Homo sapiens: one gene and its partners. The protein of the gene in region 2 interacts with the protein of the main gene of each other region in a pairwise test. Each region holds a gene or a part of one and is shown on either strand. Other genes may lie near its edges.

Region 1 (7,026 bases), on a different chromosome or scaffold from region 2:
GGTTGGACCTGTAGTCCAACTGGCTGATCAGTTTTTCTGTCAGAATCTAAGAACCTTAACCTTAAAATAATCTCAACTTATTTCTCAAGCACCATTATATGTGTGTATATTATATTTAAATGTACCAATATATTTATAGCACTAGAAAAATATGTATCTTTTAATGCATTGAGTTACTAGACAGAAGTATTAAAAAGGCAAAAATTCCTCTTTAAGGAAATAGCTTACATCCTATAAGTGCTCTTACAGGTAATGAAAAAACTGTGTCTGCAATTTGTTCCCTAATATGTCATAAACCAAAAATAGGCTCTTGGGAGAAAGTAATATCTACTCAACATAGCTGGTATTTAAAGAACTTAAATACTGAATTTCAGTACTGTCTCTGTCATAAAACATTGTATTTCCTGGGGCAAGTAACACCTTAACAATGTTTTATAAAAAGCATCAGCAGTTAGCATATGGGTATGAAAACACTTTGCCATTGAATTTCTCATAGATGGTATTAAAAAGTGTCCATTCATGACTATACAACTTTTAAAACCCTAGACAAATAAAAATCCACATGCACTCACTACAAATAAAATCTACACTCTCATCAGACAAAATCTACATTCTCAATACAACCCCAACTGCAACGGCCAATAAATTTACACAAATAAAAATATAATCCAACTTGCTAAACAGGACCCAAACGTATTATCTCGTGAGACACCAGTTATGATAAATTTTGGACATTCTATTTCATTATTCTGTAGTTTTGTTTGTTTGTTTTTGAGATGGAGTCTCGCTCTGTCGCCCACGCTGGAGTGCAGTGGTGCGATCTCGGCTCACTGCAAGCTCCGCCTCCCAGGTTCCAGCGATTCTCCTGCTTCAGCCTCCCGAGTAGCTGGGACTACAGGCGCCCACCATCACACCCAGCTAATTTTTTAAAATATTTTTAGTAGAGACGGGGTTTAACTGTGTTAGCCAGGATGGTCTCTATCTCCTGACCTCGTGATCCGCCCGCCTTGGCCTCCCAAAGTGCTGAGATTACAGGTGTGAGCCACCGTGCCTGGCCTGTTTGTTTGTTTTTAGAGATGGAGTCTTGCTTTGTTGCCCAGGCTAGAGTGTAGTGGCTATTTACAGACACAATCATAGTGCACTGCAGCCTCTAATACCTGACCTCCGGCAATCCTCCTGCCTCAGCCTCCCAAGTAGTTGGGACTACAGGTGAACAACACCTCGCAAAGTTCTGTTTTTTGTTTTTACACTTTGTATTTGCTTTCTTACAATATTCTATTCAAAACTTTGGTCACTAGCCCAACTCCTTTTTGAGGAACACATTTAGAAAACAATGTCAAAAGCTTTATGGATATACAATTAAGGAAACACAGCATTACATAACTATATTTAGGCAAGGGCAGTTTCACCCACTGTTTACTGAGTAAGAGTGAATAAGGATGGTCTCTCTCCATTAACACAATGCATGGCTCCTGCTAGCATTTGATAAATTTGAACTATTATTACTTGAAAGTGCAACTGTTCAGCTGGAGCAAAATACAGGCAATACAACTTACTGGACATTTCATCTGAGACGAGTAGATCTGGATCTGCTCCCATCTTCATATTTGGTATTCCCTCAGCCCATCTCTGTATGGAGGTGAGGTGGCTTTCATTCAAATATGTGCCCCTGTCAGACATACACTGGGTCATGCCACCACCAGGGCTTCAGTGGAGGAAGTCACGGTGAGCCTGAAGGCCTGATATCACCTACCAAGAGCCTCAGGGAACCCAGCCAGCAAAGCAGCAGCGGCCTTGCTCTTATGACATAAAACAGTTTTTGGAGAGTGCCCAGAACCAGGGTGACAGAAAACTCTGTGAGGGTTTCAATAAGGTGCTGAAACAGTGCAGACTTGCAAACAGATTGGTCTAATCAGAAAGTTCGAATTGGAGAAATGGAAAATCAGCTCTCATAACCAAGTGATTTAGCACAAAAATACAATTGATAGTGAAGGTATAAAGTGTAATCATCAGGTAAACCTCTCCTCTCTCATAGCGTCCCTGCTTCAGGACTGCAATGGAAAAGGAAATTCTTACTGTGTAGAATTTCATTAAGATGGCTGGGTAGATGTTTGTGTGGCACCCTTGAACTAGCCGTTATGATTTTATTCTTTGTTGAGTTAATTAGAATAAAGTGATTTTCCTCAAAAAACAAACAAACAAATATGTGCCCTTGTCAGACTGTTCCATCGTGATACCCCCACGATAAACCATGCCTGTTAAAACATATGGTTCCGTGATTCACCAACAACAGAAAACAGATGCATTCAAGGAACTTGTGAGGAAGCACAAACTCAAACCCCACTGCTGATAAATTCATTACAAAAGATCCACTGAGAAAGTATGGAAGGTAGGTGAAGAATGTGCAATCCACCTACTCATCTAGATAATCTAAAACAGATCCTTAAATCAGCCTAGAGATCTAAGTACTCGGATCACATTATTTTGCAGGCAAGAGAAATGCTTTTACGGAATGTTTTGATGTTATGTCACCGTCTTACACAAAAAGCCAATAAGGAGTTTTACTAACACACAAAGTAAAACTCGACACCCAGCCCTTTGAAACGCATGCTGGAAAGTCTTTGGGAATCCAAAGCAGAAATGATCTCTTTTGTCGTATGGTCACTGACCCATGTAACTGATTATATTTCTCTCTTAATTGGCTACTCAAAAGCAAAGCCAAATTTGTGGCCCTCTGCACTTAAGACTTCAGTCCAAGTGCTCTGTGTACACAGCTCATTCCTGTTTCCATCTTAATTTTCCCTCAGTCCTGCATTCCTCACCCACTTATCTGTTATGTTACCAACAGTATGTCGCACGTATCTTTGTAAGTCATTACAAACCCTTTCTGGAACAAGATGTGGAATAATGGAATAAGTAAATGATATGTTCCACTGAAAAAAATTATAGCACAATAAGAAAACATTTTCTTCGATTAATAAACATTTTCTATGTTCAATTTCTAATGGCATTTTCTTTTATGTGCTCCAAAGTACCTTCTAAAGGAAAAATGAAAGTGCTTAAAATTAGAAAATTCTAATTTTAAGAATTTAAATTTCCTCTGTACAACAGAGGAACTACAAAAATAAAACTTTCACTATGTATTTTTAACTGCAAAGCACACAGAAAATTATAAATATACCCCTATGTGAAAATCCCCCAAAAGCGATTTTTAATTTTAGCATACAGACCAAATCACCATAAATTCAATTACAGTTGTGTATTTATTTTGAATGGGAACTGAACAGACTAGCTTCAAATGTGGTTCATAAGGTCTTTGTACAATTCCTCCTGAGTTGTTCTGTGCCTAGCATAGAGGATGCTGCCAAACCATTCCTTAGGGTGAAACAGCAGAGAATTTAGAGCCCTCAAAACTCTTGTTACATTCCTGCTTCAGAGATTTCAGCAATCTGCTCACTGTTACTGGGGGAAAATTAAAAAGCTTAATACTCTCTCAGTGTGTAATATTTTACGCATTCATGAACACATACTTATTCTAACTTCTGACTTTTAACCACATTTAATTAATTGATCATAATAATGGTATTTGGCCCTCTTAATGACCATTGCCAAGAGAGCTATGCTACCAGAAACAAATTAAAATGTTCCACTAGGGCCGGGCACGGTAGCTCACACCTGTAATCCCAGCACTTTGGGAGGCCAAGGCAGGTGGATCACCTGAGGTCAGAAATTCGAGACCAGCCTGGCCAACATGGTGAAACCCCGTCTCTACTAAAAATAAAAAAATTAGCTCAGCATGGTGGCGCGTGCCTGTTAACACCAGCTACTTGGGAAGCTGAGGCAGGAGAATCACTTGAACCCAGGAGGCAGAGGTTGTAGTAAGCCAAGATCGCACTATTGCACTCCAGCCTGGGCAACAAGGCTGAAACTCAGTCTCACTCCAGCAAAAAAAAAAATTAGCCGGACGTGGTGGCAGGAGCCCATATTCCCAGCTACTCAGGTGGCTGAGGCACAAGAATCGCTTGAACCGGGGAGGTGGAAGTTGCAGTGAGTAGAGATCGTGCCACCACACTCCAGCCTGGGTGACAGAGCAAGACTCTGTTCTCAAAAAAAAAAAAAAAAAAAAAAGGTTATATTATAAATAAAAATTGCACTTCCTGCCGGGCACGGTGGCTCACGCCTGTAATCGCAGCACTTTGGGAGGCCGAGGCGGGTGGATCACGAGGTCAGGAGTTCGAGATCAGCCTGGCCAATATGGTGAAACCCCGTCTCTACTAAAAATACAAAAAAAATTAGCTGGGTATGGTGGTTAACTACTCGGGAGGCTGAGGCAGAAGAATCCTTGAACCCAGGAAGCAGAGGTTGCAGTGAGCCAAGATCGCGCCACTGCACTCCAGCCTGGGCAACAGAGCAAGACTCCGTCTCAAAAAGAAAAAAAGAAAAGTAAAAAAAAAAAATCACACTTCCTATCCCACTGACAGTAACTTCATTGAAAACAGGAATTTCACAGGAAACTTCAAAACAGCACCATAAAAGTATAATGTTTTCCTAAAGCATTTTAGGAGCTTTATCCAAACATCAAAGAGATAAACATAAGTTAAATAATATTAAGTGGGATAACTGTTATTTCACATGTTTACATATTGTAACAATAGTCCAGATCATTTAAACTCACTTCAGCCATGTGAAACAACACACATGATGTTTCTACAGTGCTCTATGAAAGAAGTGTACATTTAATAAGATTTTCAAGATGTTTGGCCTGTACTATGAAACTTCTTTTTATAGAGACAGGGTATCACTCTGTCACTCAGGCTGTAGTGCAGTGGCTTGATCACAGCTCACTGCAGCCTGGAACTCCTAGGCTCAAGCGATTCTCCCACTTTGGCCTCCCAAAGCACTGGTATTATAGGCATGAGCCACTGCACCAGCCTGAAACTCTTGGTTTTAGTGTGATCACTTTTTTTTTTTTTTTTTTGAGATAGAGTCTCACTCTGTTGCCCAAGCTGGAGTGCAGTGGCACAATCTCGGCTCATTGCAATTTCCGCCTCCCGGGATCAAGAGATTCTTGTGCCTCAGACTCCCGAGTAGCTGAGATCACAGGCGCACATCACCATGCCTGGCTAAGTTTTTTGCATTTTAGTAGAGACGGAGTTTTGCCATCTTGATCCAGGCTGGTCTCAAACTCCTGGCCTTAAGTGATCTGCCCACCTCAGCCTCCCAAAGTGTTGGGATTACAGGTGTGAGCCACCGCACCCAGCCTATGGTGTGATAACTTTACTGATGGGCTAAGAAGCCACTCACTTGGTACCATTTCTATTCTGAGTCACAGGTGTTAGGTTTACACAGGTATTTCCTACATTTGAGGGATAGGTCATCTCTGCTAGAGATGTTTCCTCTGCAGCCAATAAAAACCCACATGCCAGAAATTAAGCTCACACAGTCAAGACTGAAATTCTATGTCTCTAGCCAAAGACTCACATAAGTAAACAGAATTTTAGTTCTATATGTAGACATCACAATGAGTAAGTACTGATATCATTTTTTTTTTTTTTGAGATGGAGTCTCGCTCTGTCGCTCAGGCTGGAGTGCAGTGGCACAATCTCGGCTCACTGCAAGCTCCGCCTCCCGGGTTCACGCCATTCTCCTGCCTCAGCCTCCTGAGTAACTGAGACTACAGGCGCCTGCAACCATGCCCGGCTAATTTTTTGTATTTTTATTAGAGATGGGGTTTTACCATGTTAGCCAGGATGGTCTGGATCTCGTGACCTCATGATCCACCCGCCTCAGCTTCCCAAAGTGCTGGGATTACAGGCGTGAGCCACCGTGTGCGGCTGATAACATTTTTTTCACTGAAAACCAGCAACAAAAAATCAAAGAAATCAATGAGTTATTCTTATCAAATCAGTTAAGTACTCATTAAACACTTGTGTGCTCAATTGGGGTTGAGAAAGCAAAGAGAGAAATGAATGCAGAATTCCTGTTTACAAATTAGCCAGGTCAGACATCCTTATAGAAAGAAACAACTAGGAAATGAGTATACATTCACGTCAAGCATCTTTTTTTTTTTTTTTTTTTTGAGACGGAGTCTGGCTCTGTCGCCCAGGCTGGAGTGCAGTGGCGCCATCTCGGCTCACTGCAAGTTCCACCTCCCAGGTTCACGCCATTCTCCTGCCTCAGCCTCCCGAGTAGCTGGGACTACAGGCGCCTGCCACCATGCCCAGCTAATTTTTTGTATTTTTAGTAGAGACAGGGTTTCACCGTGTTAGCCAGGATGGTCTTGATCTCCTGACCTCGTGATCCGCCTGCCTCAGCCTCCCAAAGTACTGGGATTACAGGCGTGAGCCACTGCGCCCGGCTATCTTTTTTTTTTTTTTGTAGAGATGCAGTCTTGCTATTTTGCCCAGGCTGGTCTCCAACCCCTGACCTCAAGCAATCCTCCCACTTTGGCCTCCCAAAGTGCGAGGATTACAGGCGTGAGCCACCATTTCAAACATCTAATAAGCAGAAAAAATTAAAATACAAGATAGCAGTAATTAGCTGGGCGTGGTGGCGCGCGCCTATCTATGGTCAGTCCCAGCTACTCAGAAGGCTGAGGCACACAAATCGCTTGAATCCAGGAGGCAGAGGTTGCAGTGGCCAAGATCATGCCACTGCACTCCAGCCCAGTCACAGATCAAGACTCCGTCTTAAAAAAAAAAAAAAGAAAAGAAAAGAAAAGAAAAAAGCAAATAATCAAGCACTACACTGAAAACATTTATCCTTATCAGCTACATAGCAGCCTGTGTGTAAGAGTTACATAAAATTCCATTTTAGGGCCGGGTGCAGTGGCTCATGTTTGTAATCCCAACACTTTGGGAGGCCGAGGCTAGAGAATCACTTGAGGCCAGGGGTTGGAGAGCACCCTGGGAAACATACAAGGATTCCATCTCTACAAAAAAATTTAGCCCAAGTGTGGTGGCTCACACCTGTAATCCCAGCACTTTGGAATGCCGAGGAGGGCGGATCACGAGGTCAGGAGATTGA
Region 2 (7,863 bases):
AGTCAAGCAGTTCCTCAGAAAGTAAACAGAATTACCATATAACCCAGCAATTACACATCTAGGTATACATCCAAGAAAATTGAAAGCATATATACCATACAAAAACTTGTAAATGAGTATCCACAACATTATTTATTATGGCCAAAAAGTAGAAACAACCCAAATGCCCATCAGTTGAAGATTGGATAAACAAAATGTGGCATAGCCATATAACAAAATAATATTCTGCCATAAAAGGAATGAAATATTGATACATGGTATAATATGAATAAACCCTGAAAGCATTATGTTAAGTGAAAGACACTAAAGGCCACATATTATGATTCTATTCACATGCAATGTCCAAAATAGGCAAATCCATAGAGACATAAAGTAAATTAGTGGTTGTCAAATATGGGGAAGGGGGAATAGTAACAAAAGCTACCAGGTACAAGGTTCTTTTTAGGGTAATAACGTTCTTGGATTAGTGCCGACATTTGCATAATTTTGTGAATATATTAAAACTACTGAATTGCATACTTTAAAAAAGTGAATTCTATGGCATATGAATTATATCTCAAAGAAAACTATTATAAAAATTTAAGTCTCTGCTTTTTTTTCTTTTGAGACAAAGTCTGGCTGTCACCCAGGATGGAATGCAGTGGTCCAATCATGGCTCACTTCTCTGCTTGCTACTTTTTATTAGTAAATATTCTACTTTCCTCAAGAGGTTGCTCATGTTGCTTGTAACAGCTTTAAAAGATCTTTGAAGTTAGCTACTATACAGATGAATGGTATTTTTAGTAAAGTAAAACTACTATAACAGAGAAACTTTCTAAAAATCGGATTAGTTTGGTACAATTTCATTTTTTCAAAAGAAATGTCATTAATACCAAGTTCATTTTTAGAGAGTGGAAAAGCTTCAACAAGTCCTTATAAAAATACATTTTTTAAAAAGGTCAAAATGCAATACTTTGTTTTCTTAATTATTGGACATTTCATTTTCAGATATATCATTAGTAGATTACCTGTTTAAAATGTCATTAAATGCCTAGCAATGAATTAAAACCCAAGTAGATGCAACTTTGTGACCTCTACTTACAACTTTCTACATTCTGCATTCTGTTGTCAGATTCCTAGTCCATCACTAGCTCCTAATCTCTTACATCAATTATTCCATTCAATTCTTATTCACAGGGGCTAAAATGTTTGGTAAATGCAATCAATTCATTTTTCTAATGCTGGGGAAAAACTAGAGTGGGCCCAATTTTTAAGGTTAAATTTAGTCCAGAATGTTTGAATAAATATTCAACAAAACGATTTCCTGGAATTTGGAACATAAAAACAGCCTATAGAGTTGTGAAATGCTTTCTAGGTCCTTGGGGAATTTTTTCACGTATTTAGTCATGGGGCAAAGTATTACGTATAAAAGCTTCCTGGTCCTAGAACAAAGACGTATTTTACTGCTCAAAGCTAAAGGAATTAGTATTGTTAAACTAAAATAGCATACCAATGAAACCAGCTAGGTATTGGCATAACTTAACCAAGGTATGTAACCAAAGATAAATTGTACCTTATTATGCATTCTTCCTTGGGAGGAAAAATTCTCACATTAATAAGATTTAGCCAGCCAAAACAGAAAAAGTATATAGATATATGTGTGTCTGTGTATGTAGGTATGTATAAGGATTAGGATTTTGAGTGGCAATTTAAATTTGACGGTTTGCCAAGCTATGCTGGGATACATAGTGGGCATGCTTGACACAAGCAAAACGTGAAGTAAGAGACGACCTGTCAAACAGCTGCTATCTAGTTACTCCCTCGGCAGCACTCCCAACTTCTCCCGCGATGTCTGTGTGTAAGAGAAAGATGTCAAAGCACCAAGAAAACCACGGGGGCTGTCAGAGCAACAGCCAAGTCCAAACCGTGCATCCCAGGGTGAAATCCCACCCGTACCCTCAAGAGCTGGTCAGACTGCGGCTCTTTTCTAATATGAGTCTACCTAAAATAGAAAAATAAACACAACCACAGACCCTGGCCAACCCTCTCTCTCCTCCCCTTTGTGACTCTCCCAAACGCTGGAGGGATGTTAACCTCTGGCAGGCCCGTGGAAGCCAAGCCCCGCGACCTGAGGAGGCGTCCAGGAGCCTCGGCGCAGCCCTGGGGCCTCGAGCCCGTGTCCTCCACCCACCCGACAGGGCCGGTCACCGGTCACACAAAGGAGCCAGTCGCGGGCGCTGGACGCGGGACTCGCCCGAGAGCAGGGAGCCACATCTGGTTCCTGCACGCTGGCAAAAGAGACCCGCTGGAAAATAAGGACTAACGCCCAAACCTGTTGCACAATTCGGGTCCCTTTCACCCAGAAATGAACAAGGGCGCTCAGGAACGGAAAAGCGCGCGGCCCGGTCTCTGCGGGCCGCGGCCGCACCCGGCAGACGGCGCGGAGGCAAAGGCGGCCCGCAGGGCTCCCACCTCCGGCGCTTTGTCTGTGGCGGCAAGGCGGTGGGGGCGGTCGGGGCGTTGGGAGCAGAGGCGGTGGCGGGGCGGGGGCGCCCCTCCTTCACTGCGTAGCCCCTCCGCCCCGCGGCCCGCGCAGGGGAAGAAAGCCGGGCCCGCTACCGCCGCCGCCGCCGACTGCACCGGCCCAAGCCGGCCACCCGGCCGCGGGGCCTGCGCGCTTCTCCCGCCCGGGCCGAGCGGCGGCCACACTCACCTGGCTGGCGCTGACGCTAGCGGCCGGCGGCTCCGGGGCGTTGGGGAAGACAGGGGAACGCTAGCGAGGTGCGGGCGGAGGCGGAGGGCGCGGCGGGAGGAAGGCGGGCTGGGGGCGGAGCGGGCCCGGGCGGCGGCGGCAGCAGCGGCGACGGCTGCGGCTCCAGTCACTCGCGGCAAATCGCGTCCCGGCCCCTCCGTGCGTCAGGCGGGGAGCGGGGGTGCGGGTGGCCCGGCGACCTCTCGGCACCCGCGGCCCGAGCCGCGTCCGCGCGACCCCGCGCGCGCCCGGGTGACGGCGGTACAGCAACCCGCCCGGCGCGGGAAGGAGGAAGGAGGCGGGGCGGGGCGGGGCGTCCAACCGGGCCTGGGGCTGAGGGCTGGGCGCGAGTGGGACTCTGGCGCTCCGGACGGACCCTGCCGTCCCCACCCCTAGCCGAGGCCCAGGCTCCCCAGGCGGGAGGCAGTCTTGGAGAGTGGAAGGGTACCTAGATCTGGAGTCAGAAGTCTGGGCTTAAGAGAGGGTCCGTTACTTGACACCCTGGCAGGTCATTTATTTCCTCTGGCCTCATGCTGGAGTTCGAAGGTTCGAGTACAAAGTCTCCAAGAGCTGCTCCCAAGTACTCACTGCCAAGCGGTGGTGTGGCTGAAGGATGAAGGCAGATGAAAGGGAAAGGGTTGCGGTGAGGAAGGGCTGGATTCAGGGCATTTGTTTTGCTTTGAGGATCTTTCCACTGGACAGTCCAAAATTAATCCACAATGGGGCTCCCTGATAATGGCTACTTCCCCATTTTTACCAACCTAGTTATTTTTCTCCAAGTATACTGACTTAAGAGTCCTTGTTTTCATTTTATTGCGCAAATCATTTGTATGTCATTTCCTGAATTCAGTTCAAAAGAGTCATCAGCAAATTCACACCAGATCAGAGCAGCTGTGTGGTCCCAATTTCAAGACTTCCATATTATTCACTCAGCCACTCACTTCAGTATCACCTAATTCCGTTGATAAAATCTTCCTATTCCAACAACTAAGCAACCAAATTTCTCTCCACTAAAGTTTTCTGACTTAAAATCCCGTGGATTAATTCTTCCTCTTAATTCTGTGAATATCAGTCTGTCTCCATGACTTCCACCTCTTTGCCACTCTAGGTCAAGCCTTTAACTTCACTGCTGCTTCAGTTCCATATAACTGCCAGAGAGAATGCTCCAAAAAGACAGAGCTAAGCATGAAACGTCCCTCTTTAAAATCATTCAAAGTCTCTCCACCTGGTTGAATCAGGTTCAAACTCATTACCATGGTTTACAAAGCCATTTAAAATCTGATCTATTGACCTCCTTGGCTCCAGCTTCAACTCCTAATATATCTACGTATCACACAAATTCAACAGACTTTGTCTTTGTGCCCTTGTAGTTTTCCCCCACCTGAAATCCATCCCTCATTTAACCAGTTGAACTCCTATTGTCCTTCAAGATAATGAAGATAATGCATCCCTTCCTCCTTGGAATCTTCCCTGACATCATCTCCTTTCACCACATCTGTATCCTTACCCCACACATTTACAATGAATTAAATACTCTTTTTCTCTCTGCTTTCATAAAATCGTCTATCTACAGTATTCCCTATGATAATCTTTAATACTTGCTTTTTTCCTGTTGCTTTGCTTGGTGGCCTTTTCTTCCTAGACTGTGTGTTCCTTAAAAGGACAGGGATTTTGTCTAGTTCATTTTTTTTGCTCCCCAGAACATAGCACAGTGCTCAGCACAAAAAAGGTTCTCTTTAACTGTTTGCTGAAGCGTTGAAATAATTTTCCATCCCAACAAATAGATGTTGAGCATCTACTCAACGAAAAGAAAATACAGGGAAGTCCACAGTCCCAGCCTTTTTTAGCCTTCCGTGGTATTCTGTTTTTCCCTTCTCTACTATGTGGCATTCTCTGCTTATCATTTTAAACTCTCTCCAACTACCATTCACATTCTTTGCTTATCCTAGTAAAACAAGAGCATGCCAAGCAATCCATTATAATAATTCACAAAATATCCCTGCCCTTCCTCTTTACATACTTCTGGTTCCACATTGTATTACCTAGGTGTTAGATAAGAGGTAACTGCTATAATGGAAAAAACATTAAACTATAAATTCAGAGAATGAAATTTGGATGCTACGTTTTCCAATAACTACTGAATGAACTTAGCTCAATCACTTATAGTCATGAGGCTTTACTTCTGGAGTTTCTTTGGCTCTATGATTAGCATTTGTTTTTAATATTTTATTATAAAAGTAAATATATATATGCTAGATCCTTGCAATGTAGCTATCCAGCATATGTTTGAACTCCAAGTGATAGGAAACCATTCATGACCTCACAACAGTTTTCATTTTTAAACAGTCCTGCTAGTTTCTATGTTCAACTAAAATCTGTCTCTGTATACATTTGGTAAGTAGCTACAGTATTGGTAGAAACACCACTGGACTTAGACTCCAAAGAAGTTGGTCAAATCCTGGGCTTATAACTTCCTAATTGTGTGACCTTAGAAAAGCACAAAACTGCTCCAAGTATGAGTTTGCTCCATTCTAAAAGGAGAAAATGATAATAATAGCACCTTAAATCATTATTGTAAATATGAATGCAATGCGTATGAATGTGTCCAGTGAGTCTGAACCTAGTACTAACATTGTTTAATACAGAACAGCATGGTTCCCCCCCATATGCAGCCTTGTAAACATTTGAAGTCAGCAGTCACAATGTGTGCCTTCTCCACCCACTTTTTATTCACATCTCATTCGTCTCCATACGCATTTATCTAAACATTCTCCAGTGTCTCTTAAAATGTGGCACCTAGAACTGAATACAATATTCCAAGTATAAAGGAAGGAGTAGAGGAGTACAATTTTCTGCATCCTAATGAAGATATTTCAAAATTCAGTTTGATATCACATTATTTTTCTACCACCCCATACCGTTCATAAATATCATGTTATTGCCAACTAAAAACAAGCAAAAATTACCCCCAAATCTTTTTTAAGTCTTTAACATATATACAGCTATAAAACCATATCTTCTCCAACCTGTATTTTGCAATTTGTTTTTGGAAACTGTGCAGATCTTTGCATTTATTCCTCTTAAATATCACTTTGGAAGTTATGTACAGAAGCCCCTGCCAACTAGAAATCAATGTGAAGTGAGAGTAACATTTTAAAAACATTAAAGGGTGGAGAAAAAGAATCCAAAGCCACCTCAAGCAACAAGTTTCTAAATTCTTAATTTCTCCTCTACTACTTCTTTTAGATTTATTAATTATTATTATTATTATTATTAATTATTTTAGAGGGAGTCTCACCGTGTCGCCCAGACTGGAGTGCAGCAGCACGATCTTGGCCCACTGCAACATCCACCTCCCAGGTTCAAACCATCCTCCTGCCTCAGCCTCCCTACTAGTTGGGACTACAAGCATGTGCCACCTTGCCCAGCTAATTTTTGTATTTTTAGTAGAGACGGGGTTTCACCATGTTGGCCAGGCTGGTATCGAACTCTTGACCTTGTGATCCACCCACCTCAGCCTCTCAAAGTGCTAGGATTACAGGCATGAACAACCGCACCTGGCCTAATTTATTTATTTTTAAGAGATGAGGTCTTCCTGTATTGACAAGGCTGGTCTCAAACACGAGGCCTCAAGCGATTCTCCCACCTTAGCCTCCCGAGTAGCTGGAACTACGGGAGTGAGCTACCATACCAGCAAGCTTTTTTTTTTTAAGCCACATTTGAATGTCATCTAAAATTAGATAACTTCCCATACTCATCTTGTTTTATTTATATCATAAATTAATAGTGAAAATGCCTTCTATGAGTGTGTTCCATACATTGTTTGCTTGAACCACTGAAGAATTCTCAGTCTGTCTCAAACTGGTATTGTTACTGCCAATTTCCTGAAACTCAGCTCGGTTAGGTAATTTGCTACACAGTCATCCTGCACCAAAGTTGGCTTGGAGAAACTGCCCCTCCTCCAGCCCTTGCTGAAGGGTGGCCCCAGGCAATATACTCTTTTGTGTTGTCTGTGTAATCCCTGAATCACTGTTGATTGCCCCTGGGTGGGCACTGACCTAGACACAGGCAAGTCATACTCATTCAAAAAATGACCTGGGGGGAAAAAAATCAGTCCAAAAAAAAAAAAACCCTGATCCAATCAGGCAATCAATTGAGGAAGCTGAAATCCAGAAGGACTCACAGAGGGTGTTCATGGGCAGGAAGGGCCCTGGCAGATCACCAGTAAGCAGAAGCTAATGTCTACCAAACAATGACTGAGCAGAAAATATCCATTCATATATTCATTCAACAAGTATTGATTAAGCATCTCCTGTGATTTAGGTGCTGGGGATAGAGTTGGGACAAAATACACAAAAATTCTGCCTCATGAATCTTGCATTCTGGTGGGTGGGACAGGCAATAAACACAAAATAAGTAAATTAAATCGTGTATTAGGTGATAAGTGCTGGATAAAAATAATGCAGGGAAGGGGACTAGAGAGTGCTGGGGTTTGGGGTGCAATTTTTACTATCAGAGAAGGCCTTGCTAAGAAGGTGAAGTCACAGATAAGGCTTGAAGGATCCAAGGTAGTGAGGCTGTGAAAAAAAGGTAGGGGAGAAGCTGAGGGAGCCAGATAGTGGCCGGGTCATCACGCAGCAGGCACCAGGATAAGGAGCCACAACATCAAACTATACACAGAGCAGGACATTGACAATCTAGCTGGGAGCTTTTCCCCCGGTCAACTAGACCAGAAACTTTGTAGATGGGACCTCAAAAGTCTGTATTTTCAAACACTCCTGAGATGATTAGGACATTCCACCAGGATGAGAATCCCTGCTCTTAAAAAAAGACTGCAAACTCTCACTGATGCCTTGGGTTCTGAACACCCGTTAAATTCTGTCTTCCAGAATGCACAATTTAATTTGCATTCCTCTCCTCTTAGGGTCTATATTAGTCCATTCTCACACTGCTATATAGATAATACCTGAGACTGGGTAATTTATAAACAAAGGAGGTTTAATTGACTCACAGTTCCACATGGCTGTGGTGGTCTCAGGAAACTTATAATCGCAGGGGAAGGGGAAGCAGCCACGTCTTACATGGTGTCAGGCAAGAGAAGAGTGAGCGTGTGTGAGTGCAGGAAAACCTAC
Region 3 (7,026 bases), on a different chromosome or scaffold from region 2:
ATATTTGCAGTCAGAGACTGAGAATGAAAACAGAATCATCAGAACTTCAGGATAAGGTTTTTTGAACCTTAGATGAGAAGGGCCATCTCTAACAGAAGACATGAAACTCTGAGAAATAGAAAACAGGAGGCTCATCTAATTAAACTCTCAGGGCTCTGATGACAGGCACACTCCTGTTTTGCTCTGCATCTCCAATGCCTATCACACAAAGGCACTTGCTACTGGCGGGAAGGGTGACTGACTGCTCAGAAAAGGATTGAGGCGTCTTTCTCAAACATCCCATTTCTCAATGCTTATTCCAATTTCTGGAAACGGACACAGCTAAACTACTCACAGCTATACTGTATATTTTCAAAGGAAAGGTTTTTTGAGGGGATAGGTGGGAGACAGCATAGAGAGTACAAAAGTGAAAGACAGCATTTTTCAGAAGAACTCCAGCACAGCTCCTCCTGACTCATGGGAATGAATATATGTTTAGGTTGTTGAAGAGAAGGGCACCAGGATACCAGAACTGGATGAAACATCCCCTATGAGCTAATCTTTGCTATGGTCCCATGTGATGCTATTATACCCTAGAATGGGCTTACCAGTGTTCATAAATACCCTGGCCTTTTCTGGCAAATATATTTTTCTAATTTAATATTTTAATTAAATATATATTTAATGTCATATATTAAACAAATATTAAATCAAATGTTATTTATACTTATATCAATATAATATATAGACATTAATATTTCCAGTGTAACATTTTTCCTACAGATTGCCTCGTGAGGCTTGTATAGAAGTCTTACACATTTCAAAAGCATGAATCAGCCTCCCTGAATCCACTCACCATGGGAAAATTTGACAAAATTCCAGCTTTCATGATGGATTCCCATTTCTCTACCATGTTGCACCTCCTGCTAACTCAATGCTACACTGTGAGACCCTGCCCATGGGAGTTAGTTGTCCTCACACCTGCAGCAAATTTTGACTTCGTCTCTGTGCTCAGGCATATGGAAGTTCACCCAGCTGTGCTGCATATGAATATATCCATCTGCTCAGGACTCTGCTGAGATTACCTTTTCCTGCAGACGTTCAATAATAGCAGCTAGATTAGCCTCACGGTTTTCCTTAATTTGTTCCATTTTCAGGATCAGCTTTTCCTCCGCCATCTTGCTGAAGTTGTTGTTCTCCTCCAAAGCCTTCTGAAGGACTTCTCGCTCGTGTTCCCTCTTCTCTGCCAATTGTTTCAGCACCTGGGCCTCCTGAGACTGGGGAAGAAAAACATAGCCATCTTATAATTATCCAAACACAAACCTAGCAGAATAACGGCCCACCAATTGGAGGGAGCATTCTTTTCAGATGAATAGTACTCCCAGCCTTGAGCACTATTGTCAAGTCTGTACTCATCTGCATGGCTTAGAGTTTTCTATAGAATGTGGCTAGTTGGGAAATGCGGTTAGCTGAATTTTCAGCTGTGAGTATATTTCGGACTGTCTTAGAAGAAGAAGCATTTAATCCTCATTGAGGAGTTACAAATTTTTTTAAAAAAAGGCTTTGTTGCTAAGCGTTTATGCAACAGAAAATGCTATAATGAATTACAGGATGGCAATATTCAACCAAAGCCTGAGGAAAACAGTTGAGGACTGAGACAAGTTCTGATCTTCTTCCTGATCCATTGTTTTTTCATCAACTGTAGGCTAGGCCCTACAATAAGCTTTTCAATTTTCATCAATCAAATAATCAAATTCACTTTCTCCTTTTATTTCACACCCCCTTCCCCCCTCCCTATCCCCCATACACCAAAGTCTCTTTGGAGATCTGAGAACAGTGCAAACTTAGTGTCCCCTTGGCCACAGAGAGCAGAAAGTCCTTGTTTTGACCCTCTCTTGAAACCCTGTGGTTGCTCAGTGATTTAGATCCAGATGTACACCCTGCCCTGCACTTTGAGCACTGTAATTTTCTTCCAGCATCAGGAGTCTGTTTGGCTCTGTACAGTGAATGGTAATCACTGGAGCACTTGATAACAATGCAGGTGCCTGGCATCTACCTCCAAAGATTCTGATTCCAAGGTTCTTTGGTGAGGCCCAGTGATAAGCATCACTAGTGACTCAAATGCAGGTAGTCCAGTCTACCTTTTGTAAGTCATACTGGCATGGGCTTTGATGTCAGGCCTGTGTTCAAGTCTTACCTCTGTTTGTGACCCAGGATGTGTTACGTAACTTCTTTCCATATTCTTTTTATTCTCCCCATTATGCAGCTGAGAAAAGTCCCACCCAATACTGACCTATTTAGGTTTAAGACTAAATTATTACACACTCATGGCTTCTGGATAATTTCTCAGGATCAGCTGATGCCCCGAGGCAATCCTTCACAGGAGTAATTATAAGTGGGAATATCTAAACAATGGTTGATCAAAAAATAATCCTAAGTGCCCTGTTAAATACTGATTACCATTGAAAGCATTAGTGGGAAAACATTTTAGTTGATGGTAGTGGTTGTGGACATTTACTGGAAAGGTCTTTTTGTATAAACAATATGGGGCCTGGAGAAAGGAGAAACTTCTCTTCAAATAAAATTCTACAGAAATGGGAAAGTCAGACAGCCTTACACATCTTTACTGATGTGTTTATTCTCAAGTTGATCAGGAATAGGTCTGTGGCTCACTGGAGATTAGACAGAAAATCCTGGGAACCAGCCCTGCCTCTTGCTTTAACCCCATAATGGTTTCAGGACATTTTACTATTTATGTGTTTATTTTTTTTTAGATAGAGTCTCGCTCTGTCACCCAGGCAGAAGTACAGTGGCGTGATCTCTGCTCACTGTAATCTCTGCCTCTGAGGTTCAAGCGATTCTCATGTCTCAGCTTCCTGAGTAGCTGAGATTACAGGTGTGTGCTACCACACCCTGCTAATTTTTGTATTTTTAGTAGAGATGGGGTTTCGTCATGTTGGCCAGGCTAGTCTTGAACTCCTGGCTTAAGTGATCCACCCGCCTCGGCCTCCCAAAGTACTGGGATTATAGGTGTGAGCCACTGTGCTTGGCTGGTTTTAGGACATTTTTAGTGGAACCAATGCTTTCTTACTTTGTATTGGTTTCAGGAAAACCAATACAAAAATAATAAGAAAATTATAACATAAATTGAGTTCAAACTCCAATGGAGCCTTTCTGGAAGAAATATGAATAAAATATTTTCTAGCTGGTTCACTCTCCTGCCTCTAGGTGGGACTGTTGGTAAAGCATCCTACACAGACTTTGCTTATTTGCTGTTATCAGGACTACGGAATTGTTACAGGGAGAGAGGTGTGTGTGTAAATATTTAAAGTTTCTCTCTCTGGGAAAAGTCTTCATGAAATTAATTTTTTTGGTAATGGATAAGAATAGTACCTATCTCATATGGTTGTCAGGATCAAACAAAATAATGTTTGCAAGGTATTTAATGCAGTGTCTAATATCAAGTAAGTTAGTACTGAATGAGTGGTAATCATTATTATCAAAAGCAAAATTTAAGACACTTGTGACAAGGAGATGATGGCAACTGGACTTACTGGTATAACAACTCAAATGCAAAATTTTGGCAATTTCATGTGTGTGAAGTATTTGTTCAAACTTCTTTGATTATGAACAGTTAGTGGATTCAGGGATCCTGATGGTTGATGAGAGTCCAAGTCCTTCCTAACTCCCTCATCTCCACCTCATGCATGCCCACTGACTTGGGCTGTATTGATAGGAAATCTCACAGTGAAGTGAGCACCACAAAGAAATAAGAGGAGACAGCTTTGCACCTTCATTTTAGAAAATTCAATACATGTAACCTCCAGTCCAGCAAACCTTCTCAAGGAAGAAGGCTGGATTATCACAAAACAAGGGTGCAATGTGTCCAAGAATTAGGAATTGGGTTAGAGCCCTAGGTTTCTCTTGTAATGAACAGAAATCCATGGAGGATGCTCCAGGAGACAAAGTCAAACCAAACAAATCAAAATAAAGCAAAGTAAAACTTCAACATTCTCTAAGTGCCGTGCTTTAAAATCATTTTTCTATCTTAATACACTGTTAGGTAATGCTCTTCTTAGCAACTGGTACCCATCAGCCACAGCTGCTAAAGGCAGGTAGCAATGTAACATTTCTGCTCAGTGGTTAAACAATTCCTTCCTGCTCCTCCTCCCATAGATCAGTGTTTCCAACACTGCCCTAGATAGGATCCACCTGGATTTTTAATGGCCACTTTTTTCAAGTAGCCTTTCTACAGAAGCTCCTGTGGCACAGTGACATGAGCCCCAACCTGGTATTTGGAAAGCCTGGGTTTGCATCCTGCTTTGCTGAGCCTGGCCCTTTGAGATGGACTTCATGGCCAGGGGCCTTGTGCCTGCTGCTCTTCAGACAGGATCAGCTTACAGAGAGTTACTGTGAATTATTATCAAGAGGCCACTGCAACTGCCTAATGTTTCATTTTCAGATGCTCCAATTAAGTTTGGCACTTTGTTCAGTTGTGTTTTAACTTAATGTTTATATTTGTGTTCTTAATTTTCCTTTGTGAAAGAACCAAAGTCAAGAGGAAACAGCAGGGAAATAAGATTCAGACGGGAAGGCTTTGAAATTACAAGGTAATACAGCAACACCACTTTTCCATACTTCTTGCCTTGGTGGGACACATTTGATCTGCATGAACAAACTCCTGTGGTTTCCATTATGAATAATGGAGAATTCCCATTATAACCAATGCCTACTCCATTTACTGGAGTGCAACATTTGGCTCAGTTTGAAATGACTCAATTTAATGGGGTTAGTACTTTTGTTGCTATTGGGGCTAAATGAGATTACACAGCATAGGTGTCAAGTGCATTTCTTTAGCACAATTAATGGGGTGAAACAGAAACAGAAGGCAGTACAGAGTGTGGTCACGTGAGTCTGCTGCTAACTCACAGAGACCTGCCAAACTAGGCCAGGCTGTGCTTCAGGGCTGCTCACTTCTGTGGTACCTTTTCTTACACCCTGGAAGGGAATGTTATATCCACTATTAACTCACACATTTGCAGGACTTAATAATTGTCTGTGTTTCAAATATTTAAAACTTAAGTCCACACATACAAAAATACAGGATGTCAAGTCAATTATGGTGGAAAGCATTCTATCCCAAGGAAATACTTATGACTTCCTATATTAGTCTCTATTCATAAGCATTCAATATTTTTTTTTAAATTTAGAGACAGGGTCTTGCTTTGTTGCTCAGGCTGGAGTATAGTGGTGTGACCTTAGTTTACTATAGCCTCAAATTCCTGGGCTCAAGAGATCCTCTTGCCTCAGCCTCCTGCACAGCTGGGACTACAGGCGTGCAACACGACACCTGTCCAGCAGTCAATTTTTGAACAAATTATTCAGGGGCGCTAATAACCAGGGGGGCATCTACCTCAGTTCCTGAGGTCTCTGCTACCCCATTGGGGTAGAAAGGCATAACCTCGCTTCCTTTTTCACAGTGTAGCATCCAGATAGATATTGCTGCCCATAACTCCTCTAACTCATTTCTTAGGTAGAAATTGATTCTCACATGAACATAGTTTAATCTTCTAGTCAGACCCTCAAGGAAAAAAATTGGCTCTAATTCCAATGAGCAAATAGGCAGTTTAATCAATGAGAAAATAAGCAGTTAGTCCAGAAAACTGCACTAAAACATGACATGAAGTGAGTGAGGCTGTAGAATAAAAAACATGTGACATACAAAAGTGGCAGCATTTTCCTTCATTTTTGGCAGAGAAGTAAAGTTCTCACTACATGTTCAAATAGGTATTCTTACTTTATATCTTGACTGTGCAGATTAGCAGAAAGGAATTGTGATTGCGTGGACTTATGAAACGGAGGGTGGTGAAGTGAGAAAATCGCTAAAAGTTGTTAAAAATAAATTGTTCAAGGAAAAAGTATCTGGCCTTGGAGGAACACTTCTAAATAACCTGTACCTAACATAGAAGGTCACTAAAATATTAAAAGGGAAAATTAGGGCAAGACAATGATCAGCTGATATAATGCAAATGTCAAGGCAAAATATAGAACTGAGATGTTCAACGTGACGTTCCGGGAGACTAAAGAACCTTCTCGATCTTGCTATTATGGGAACTGAGGCACGTTATTGGTGAGCACCTTTTCTAGGCATAAACCTCCTCACACTGAACTCAATCATTGAAATAATTACATGAGAGGTACGTGAAGCGAAAAACAATGAGACAGGAAAGGAGACTTATTGTACATTTAGGAACACTTTAACATTTTGCAAAGAGGTTAATTACCAATTTGTATATTACTGAGTGTAAGAGTTTAATTACTATACAAATGGAGTGGAAGATAAATTTGAGTAACTAGTACATAAAACTCATTTTACTTTATGTACACAGATGAGACTTAAGACTACATTTTAGATAGCACTAATTTTCCATTTATTTCTGAAGTAAACATATTTATTTTCTTGTCACTTTTCATTATTTGGGGGATATATTACTTGCTATCCAGGACCGTTGATCAGACACTAAATCTCCTAGTACCAAAAAATGCTTTTACACAAGTAGGGTAGGTGATGTGTCTGTAATTATTGACTTTACTGCTGACAATGAAAATCATTATTGACCCATCTAAAGTCACAAATAATGTCCTGTTGAAATATGACAATTGAATATAATTATGTAAAACCAAAGAGTACAATATTCACTTTGTGTTGAAGAGCCTGAAGCATAACAGGAAATTTAAAATGATTAAAATCCTAAGACCTTTAGAATGAGCCCTTCTGCTAAAGTGTGTAATGGGTTTACTGTGGTTAGCTCCTAGGAAAAGAAACTTGGGGGTGCTCTTCTTCACCGAGAAGGTAGCACACGGAAGATTCTGTGGCCCACGTGCCATATTCTGTAAGGAGCAGAATGTTTCCTGAATGTCAAGCGGTGAATAATCCAGTACTTTGTTTCATAATCCATTGCTATACAAACCACCCCCTCTTTCCCTGGATTCCATTTTAATTGCCATCTACAATGTGAGATGCCAACAAATGGAAAAGGTAAGTCT
Region 4 (7,026 bases), on a different chromosome or scaffold from region 2:
AACAAAGGTTTCTTTTTCTTTTCTTTTTTTTTTTTTTTTCAGATGGAGTTTTGCTCTTGTTGCCCAGGCTGGAGAGCAATGGCACTATCTTGGCTCACTGCAACCTCTGCCTCCTGGGTTCAAGTGATCCTCCTGCCTCAGCCTCCCAAGTAGCTGGGATTATAGGCATGTGCCACCATGCCCGGCTAATTTTGCATTTTTAGTAGAGACAGGGTTTCTCCATGTTGGTCAGGCTGGTCTCAAACTCCCAACCTCAGGTGATCCGCCCGCCTCGGCCTCCCAAACTGCTGGGATTACAGGTGTGAGCCACTGCGCCCAGCCCACAAAAGTTTCTTTTAATGAACATTCACAAAGATAAAACATATGCGGAGGGCCATAAAACAAGTCTGAAAAAATTCCAAAGGATTGAAATGATATAGAGAATGTTATCTGACCAAAACATAATTAAATTAGAAATTGATAACAATAAAGTATCTAGTAGATCTTCAAATATTTGGAAATTAAGCAACACACTTCTAAATCCCTGGGTCAAAAAAAGAGCACATGTATAGCATCTAGCATAATGCAACCAAGAAATACTTGAAAAGACCCCTATGTTTGGGTTGAATATTTTGACTGGAGAAGATATGAGAGATCAAATAGGAAGTTCACCTTTATTCTTCACTACTGGAGCTACTTAGAAAAGCCCTAGCCCTAGAGAACATACTTTCCTCTACTGTTAATTTAAGTAAAAAGTATGTTTAGAAAGATGTTATGGAAATAATTGTCTATGGGTGCTGCCCAACAAGTAAAGTAGCAAGGCAGATCCTTCAAAAAATCAAATGGCAAGCTTCAGTCAGCATTAAAAATTTTTCAAACATAGAGATGATTTTTGGAAGGTTGTAACTTTGAAAATGTTTAAATTCACTACTTTAATTGTACTTTCAGCCAAATATTGCACATTTAAAAAATAACAGAACAGCTTCTTAAGAATTAAACTGATTTAGCTACAAAAGACTAAATAAACACATACCTTAGCTGCATTGATAAAACATGTTTGTAATTGTCTCCCCAAAACTAGAAAATTTTCTGCAGCTGATGGAAGTAATTCATTGTAAAATTCCTCTGCATCTTCTCCTGGCTCCAAGCCCACACAGCAATGGCTGAAATAAGAGCACAAGTTCGTGTTAATTAGAAGTTTATGTTGAATGCTCAAGCTTCTAGAGACACTGTGCCTTATTGAGAATTTTTAGTATGCTTCTTTTGTTACCAAGACAATAAAGAATTTTTGTTGAAAAATTAGTCTAACAACTTTCTAGAAAAGTAAACAGTGGTATGGACCATGCTTGTACTTAGGTCTGGGATTTATGTATCCTAAAAACCTACATATCAGCTCATTCAGCAAATAAAAGACACTTGGCTCACAATAAAGAGAAGCTAAGTTTTCAGTGAATTGGCTATAATCATTCTCAAAGCTATAGGATACCTTGAGAGTTTAATTTATGAAAAGCATTTGTGTTAACTAATACATTTTAGACACCTAATAGCTGAAAAATGCCCAAGTAGGATTTGTTTGCAAGGGATACATAAGGAAACCAAACACTAATTTCATACCAATTTTACCTTCCAATAGATCTACTTTTTGCAAAATACTCATTTGCATATTCCTTATATCAGAAGGACAAACGGCAAAACCTAACTCTAGTAGGAACACTTTACAATATACATTAGAGGAGAGAAAGTCACTTAGAGAAAAAGGTCCTCTTAAAATTGTACATAAAAGTCATTTCCTGTACATAAGTCAGAAGTCCCAATAATAAAAGGTTTTTCTGTAAACTAACATTCAAAAGAGCCTCAAACCCAAGAATGGTCTCTATGTGTGTACTCTAATGAACAAAAACTGCTGTTTGAGTCTTTTCAACAAAATGTATGGACACTAATAAGCAATAACAACTATGTATTGAGCATGTTAAAAATCTAAGTAATCAATGGCAGACTGGATAAAGAAAATGGTATATTTCTTTGGGGTGGTACATATACACCATGGAATACTATGCAGCCATAAAAAAGAACAAGATCATGTCCTTTGCAGCAACATGGATGGAGCTGAAGGCCATTAACCTAAGTGAACTAACACAAGAACAGAAAGCCAAACACTGCATATTCTCACTTATAAGTGAGAACAAACATTGAGTATGCAATTTACCTATAAAACAAACCTCCACATGTACCCCTGAACCTAAAATAAAAGTTAAAAAAAAACCTAAGTGGATAATATTTACATGTATCACTTTTTGTTGTTGTTGTTGTTTATTTGCACCTGGGTTCCTAAAGTTAATGGGCTAATGCTCACATGTATCAGCTTTTCTTTTCTCTTTGGTTCCTAAAGTTAATTACTTAAGAGTATCTTTTTTGATTGAGAAGATTAACAAATGAAATTATGTTTATTTGTGCATTCAGAAACATGGGAATTTCTTAAGTCTTGAATTCCACCCGAGAGCCTGGCTTAATCAATATCATCATAAACTAGCATATCGAATCAAAACAAAAACATAAGGCTTTATTTACTTAAGAAAATCAATCTTGAAAATTAAAGTATGAAAAAGAATATCACATATATTTTTCAACTGTTCTTTGTAACTGTGTGCTTTAAATTTGGCCTTTACCAAGTAACACAGTAGGATTAAGCAGCTTAGAAATCTAGCATCCAAGACAAACCCTTTCAGTGGGAATAGCTTATTAAATTCAAATGGCTTATTTAGGAAAAACAAAAAAAGAAGGCTAGGATCCAGTTAGTAAATACACACTTTCACTTATTAATCAGGAAGTAGCTTAGGCACTAAGAACATCTGGTTTATTTTACTACCTCCTTTAAAAAATGTTTATTTCTCTTCTATTAATTTCTAGCATGGCAGTAGATCAGTAAATTCTACTTCTAAATTTTATTGACAGTATTTGGGTTGCTTAATGAAATACACAGTTGATAGCTACATTGATATAGTGAAATAAAATGTTTCTTTATCAGTTCTCCTATAGTACTTGCTTGCATACTTTCATTTTAGCACTGATTTCATTCTGCTTTGTATCATATACTTACATGACTGTCACCCAATCTCTATTTTAAGTTTCTCAGGTACAGAGCCAGTGCCTTAATTTCTTCACTTCTTTAAAAATTCCTTAATCAATAAAAAGTATATTAGGCACTTGGAATTCAGTGGTGAGAAAAAAAATGATCACCATCTTCATTAAGCTTGTGGAGGAAAATTTTAGACAGTCAAATAATCTGAAGTAAAATTATGAATAATAACATATAATATGAAGGAAAAGTACAACCAAAACCTACAACAGGAGGTTGCCAATGCTTGTTAGGCAGATAAATAAAAAGCAAATGTTGAAAATCAGAATCAACTACTACATCCCTCAAGAACAGCTGACTTACTGCTTTATTTTACCTTAATATCTGTGTAAGCTGGGAAATTGTAGTCCAACCACCCTGGATTCGAGAATAATCTTGACTGAGGACCAAGAGGCAATATTGAATGAGATCATAACAATATATATCTTGTTTGATTTTCTTCAACTCTGAGCTTCCTAAAGGTGTGATGTTTATTATTTCTAAGGCAAAAGGAAATAAGATATATTTATTTTTGCTTAATACATCCAGGAGCTATTTGTATTTTTATATGTTGAATAATCACTAAAAATATATTAGAAGGAAAAATTACTGTTCTATTATAGTGTTAAGACCTCTCTGAACAAATTTAAAAGAAATGTTAAAATTGTACCAACGATGGAACCATTTTTCACTTAAAATGCTATCTAATCACAAAAAGATTTTCTTACCTTTTAACTTCAACAGTATAACAGGGACATTCTGCTCAGGGCTTTTTGCAACTTCAGCAGCTATAGATAAGATCCTTGGGTCTGTACCTGTTGGCTTCATTTCTCTTATTACCTATATTTTAACAGAATCAGAGAATAAAGGTCAAAAAGCCAGGAAATGTTCACTACCTAAATAATGTTTGAAATATAATTTCAATATAAATAAAAACAGCTTTTCTTGCCTTGTTTGAGAGGCAGAATGTAGATTTTTTCATTTCTTCCTTATAGAAAACTGGTTTTTCTAACCAGTGTAAAAGAGCTCAAGATTCCTATACCTCACATGTAACAGCTATAGCAGGTATTGTTTATTGTGCACTCACTAAGAGTCAGGAACTGTGATAGGAGCTTCACATTCTCTCTCTAATCTGCACAATAATTCTAGGATAGGAATTAACTTCCTTTAATCACACAAGAAGAACTGCAAAAAAGAGCTAACATGACAGGCCTAAGACTACTATACTTTCAAAGGTGTGCTTACAAGGTTGGCCTTTGACTGGCATCTAGAACTTAGATTTCAGGAGGGTTTCTGCCATTCTCTGGTAAGAGTGGCTCCCTGTGCCTAAAACTGTTTATGAAAAACAATGTGGTTCATGCTGAATACCCGCCTTCCTTCCAGGAGTCTTAGAATTCTGGTACATGCCAGTCGAGAGTACCTATACAGAGGGTGCCTATGTGGCCATCCTCCAATAAAAATTCTGATCACTGAGTGTCTAGTTGAGCTTCCTTGGTAGACAACACTTCAAACATGTTGTCATAGCTGGTTGCTGGAGGAATTAAGCATATCCTACGTAACTCCACTGGGAGAGAACTCAGAAGTTTGTACCTGATTTCCCCCAATATGCTTTTTCCCTTTGCTGATTTTGCTTTATTTCCCTTCACTGTAATAAATCATAGCTGTAAGTACACTATATTCTGAGTCCTGTGAGCCCTCCTAGTGAAGCACTGACCTTCAACACACTAATGCTCAGAAATGTTACATAAATATAAGATAATCAAAGATTGCTTCTAAATAGTATAGTGAATAAGGCCAGGGGCAGTGGCTCACACCTATAATCCCAGCACTTTGGGAGGCCAAGGTGGGTGAATCACTTGCGGTCAGGAGTTCAAGACCAGCCTGGCCAACATGGTGAAACCCCATTTCTACTAAGAATACAAAAAATCAGCTGGGCATGGTGGCGCGTGCCTGTAATCCCAGTTACTCAGGAGGCTGAGGCAGAATAGCTTGAACCTAGGAGGTGGAGGTTGAGTGACCTGAGATCACATCACTGCACTCCAGCCTGAGTGACAGAGCTAGACTCTGTCTCAAAATAATAATAATAATAATTAATAAATAAGTAAATAGTATATTGAATAAAATCAATTCTCCTAACATTAAAAAACAAGGTCCACATCCTAATTTGTTGCTAAAACTTTCTCTATGTAAAAAAAGTTTAAGGCTGAAGAATCGCTTGAGAATTGGTGTTCAAGACTAGCCTGGTCAACAAAGCAAGACCCTGTCTCTAAAAAAAAAAAGTTTTAAAGCATTTGAAGCTCAAAGATATCCTTATATAATAAAAGCGTATTTCCTTATTTATAGTAAAGCTAACATGTATCAACTGTTTAATATAAGCTAAGCACTATGTTAATATACTATACACTGTCTTGTGTAATCCTCACAACAGGGCTATGAAGTAGATAGAGCGTGTGATCATTTCCATACATACATATATACATATACATATATATGTTTTTGTCCACAGTTTCTGGCTCATAACTCCCATAGCCTTTGTTACAGTCTTGTTATGTTAGGGTGCTTTAGGCCTCAGAAAACAGAATCTATTTCTGACTTCCTCCTCTCCTCCTTTCACCTGCTCCTTCTCTCCAAAGCAGAACTCTAATCATCCCTGCCTTTCTCTGACCTATCTTGTCTAGCTGTAGGTCATAAGACCCCTGTTTCAGAATGGGTCTTGCCCTATATCCTGGAAGGAATGCTGAACAGAGAAGCCAAGAAGAATCTGAGCAGACAGGCCTTGCTGGGTTTCCCCACTCAGTCTGTTAGTATCAGATCATATCTTTTTTGTCCAATCACATTTCCAAAATGATTGTCCATGCTTCAGTCATGCCTATCCATTGAAATCTCCATAAAAGGCTCAAGAGGATGGGGTACAAAGAGCTACTGGATAGCTGAACATGTGGAAGTTCCTGGAGGAATTTCCTGGATATCACAGGCAGGGAGGACATGGAAGCTCTGTGCCCCTTCCCATACTTCACAGTATGCATCTCTTCATTTGTATCCTAGTATTTTTTTTTGGAGACAGGATCTCACTCCTGTTGCCCAGGCTGGAGGACAATGGTACAATTATGGCTCACTGCAGCCTAGACTTCTCAGGTTCAGGTGATTCTCCCACCTCAGCCTCCCAAGTAGCTGGGACTACACTTGCAAGCCATGACGCTCGGCTAATTTTTTGTATTTTTAGTAGAGACAGGGTTTCTCCATGTTGCCCAGGGTCTCTGTAATATCTTTATAATAAACTGGAAAACATGTTTCCCTCAGTTTTGTTAGCTCCTCTAGCAAATTAATACACCCCAAGGTGTGTATTAATAGGATTCCTCATGTGTAGCTGGTCAGTCAGAAGCACAGGTAAAACAACTTAGGGCTTGGATTGGCATCAGAAATGGGGGTCCCTCTTGCAGGACTAAGCCCTAAACCTAAGGGATCTGACCCTATCTCCAAGTAGACAGTGTCAGAATTGAATTAGATGATACCCAGCTGGTGTCCGCTGCAGAATTGATTGCTTGCTTGTTGGTGGAAGAAAACTCCACACATTTGGTCACAGAAGTCTTTTGTGTTGATTGTCATGATGTGAGAGCAAAAACTGTTTTTCCATTCATATATCTCTTATTAGGTACAATATAAATCATTAAAAGACAGGTTTGCTGAAAATACCTTAAAGAAAGCCCAGTGCAACTCCCGGCACATAGTAGTCACAAAACTTTCAAAGAGAGTGCATATAGTTATCTCATTCTCTCCAAATGGCTGCATTATGCTACATTTCCTTTTAAGAATGCAGCAAAATATATTTAAACATCACCTCTACTGGAGGTCACTCAAGCTGTATGCTATTACAAGCAACACTGCAATGAATATACACATGATCCTTTACATTTTTGCCAATCTGTTAGATG

The links.
Region 1: the proteins of SESTD1 (region 2) and RABGEF1 interact in binary tests that used the Homo sapiens proteins (3 or more experiments, as listed by UniProt).
Region 3: the proteins of SESTD1 (region 2) and STMN2 interact in binary tests that used the Homo sapiens proteins (3 or more experiments, as listed by UniProt).
Region 4: the proteins of SESTD1 (region 2) and IQCB1 interact in binary tests that used the Homo sapiens proteins (3 or more experiments, as listed by UniProt).

The regions. Positions count from the first base shown.
Region 1 is NC_000007.14:66,743,721-66,750,746, reverse strand, and holds part of RABGEF1 (rab5 GDP/GTP exchange factor), read right to left. Parts: intron 1-7,026. UniProt on the Homo sapiens protein: Rab effector protein acting as linker between gamma-adaptin, RAB4A or RAB5A. Involved in endocytic membrane fusion and membrane trafficking of recycling endosomes. Stimulates nucleotide exchange on RAB5A. Can act as a ubiquitin ligase.
Region 2 is NC_000002.12:179,261,807-179,269,669, forward strand, and holds the start of SESTD1 (SEC14 domain and spectrin repeat-containing protein 1), read right to left. Parts: upstream 3,027-7,863; 5' UTR 2,693-3,026; intron 1-2,692. UniProt on the Homo sapiens protein: May act as the primary docking protein directing membrane turnover and assembly of the transient receptor potential channels TRPC4 and TRPC5.
Region 3 is NC_000008.11:79,649,101-79,656,126, reverse strand, and holds part of STMN2 (stathmin-2), read right to left. Parts: intron 1,257-7,026; coding exon 1,065-1,256; intron 1-1,064. UniProt on the Homo sapiens protein: Regulator of microtubule stability. When phosphorylated by MAPK8, stabilizes microtubules and consequently controls neurite length in cortical neurons.
Region 4 is NC_000003.12:121,825,039-121,832,064, forward strand, and holds part of IQCB1 (IQ calmodulin-binding motif-containing protein 1), read right to left. Parts: intron 3,935-7,026; 5' UTR 3,923-3,934; coding exon 3,823-3,922; intron 3,595-3,822; coding exon 3,432-3,594; intron 1,143-3,431; coding exon 1,013-1,142; intron 1-1,012. UniProt on the Homo sapiens protein: Involved in ciliogenesis. The function in an early step in cilia formation depends on its association with CEP290/NPHP6.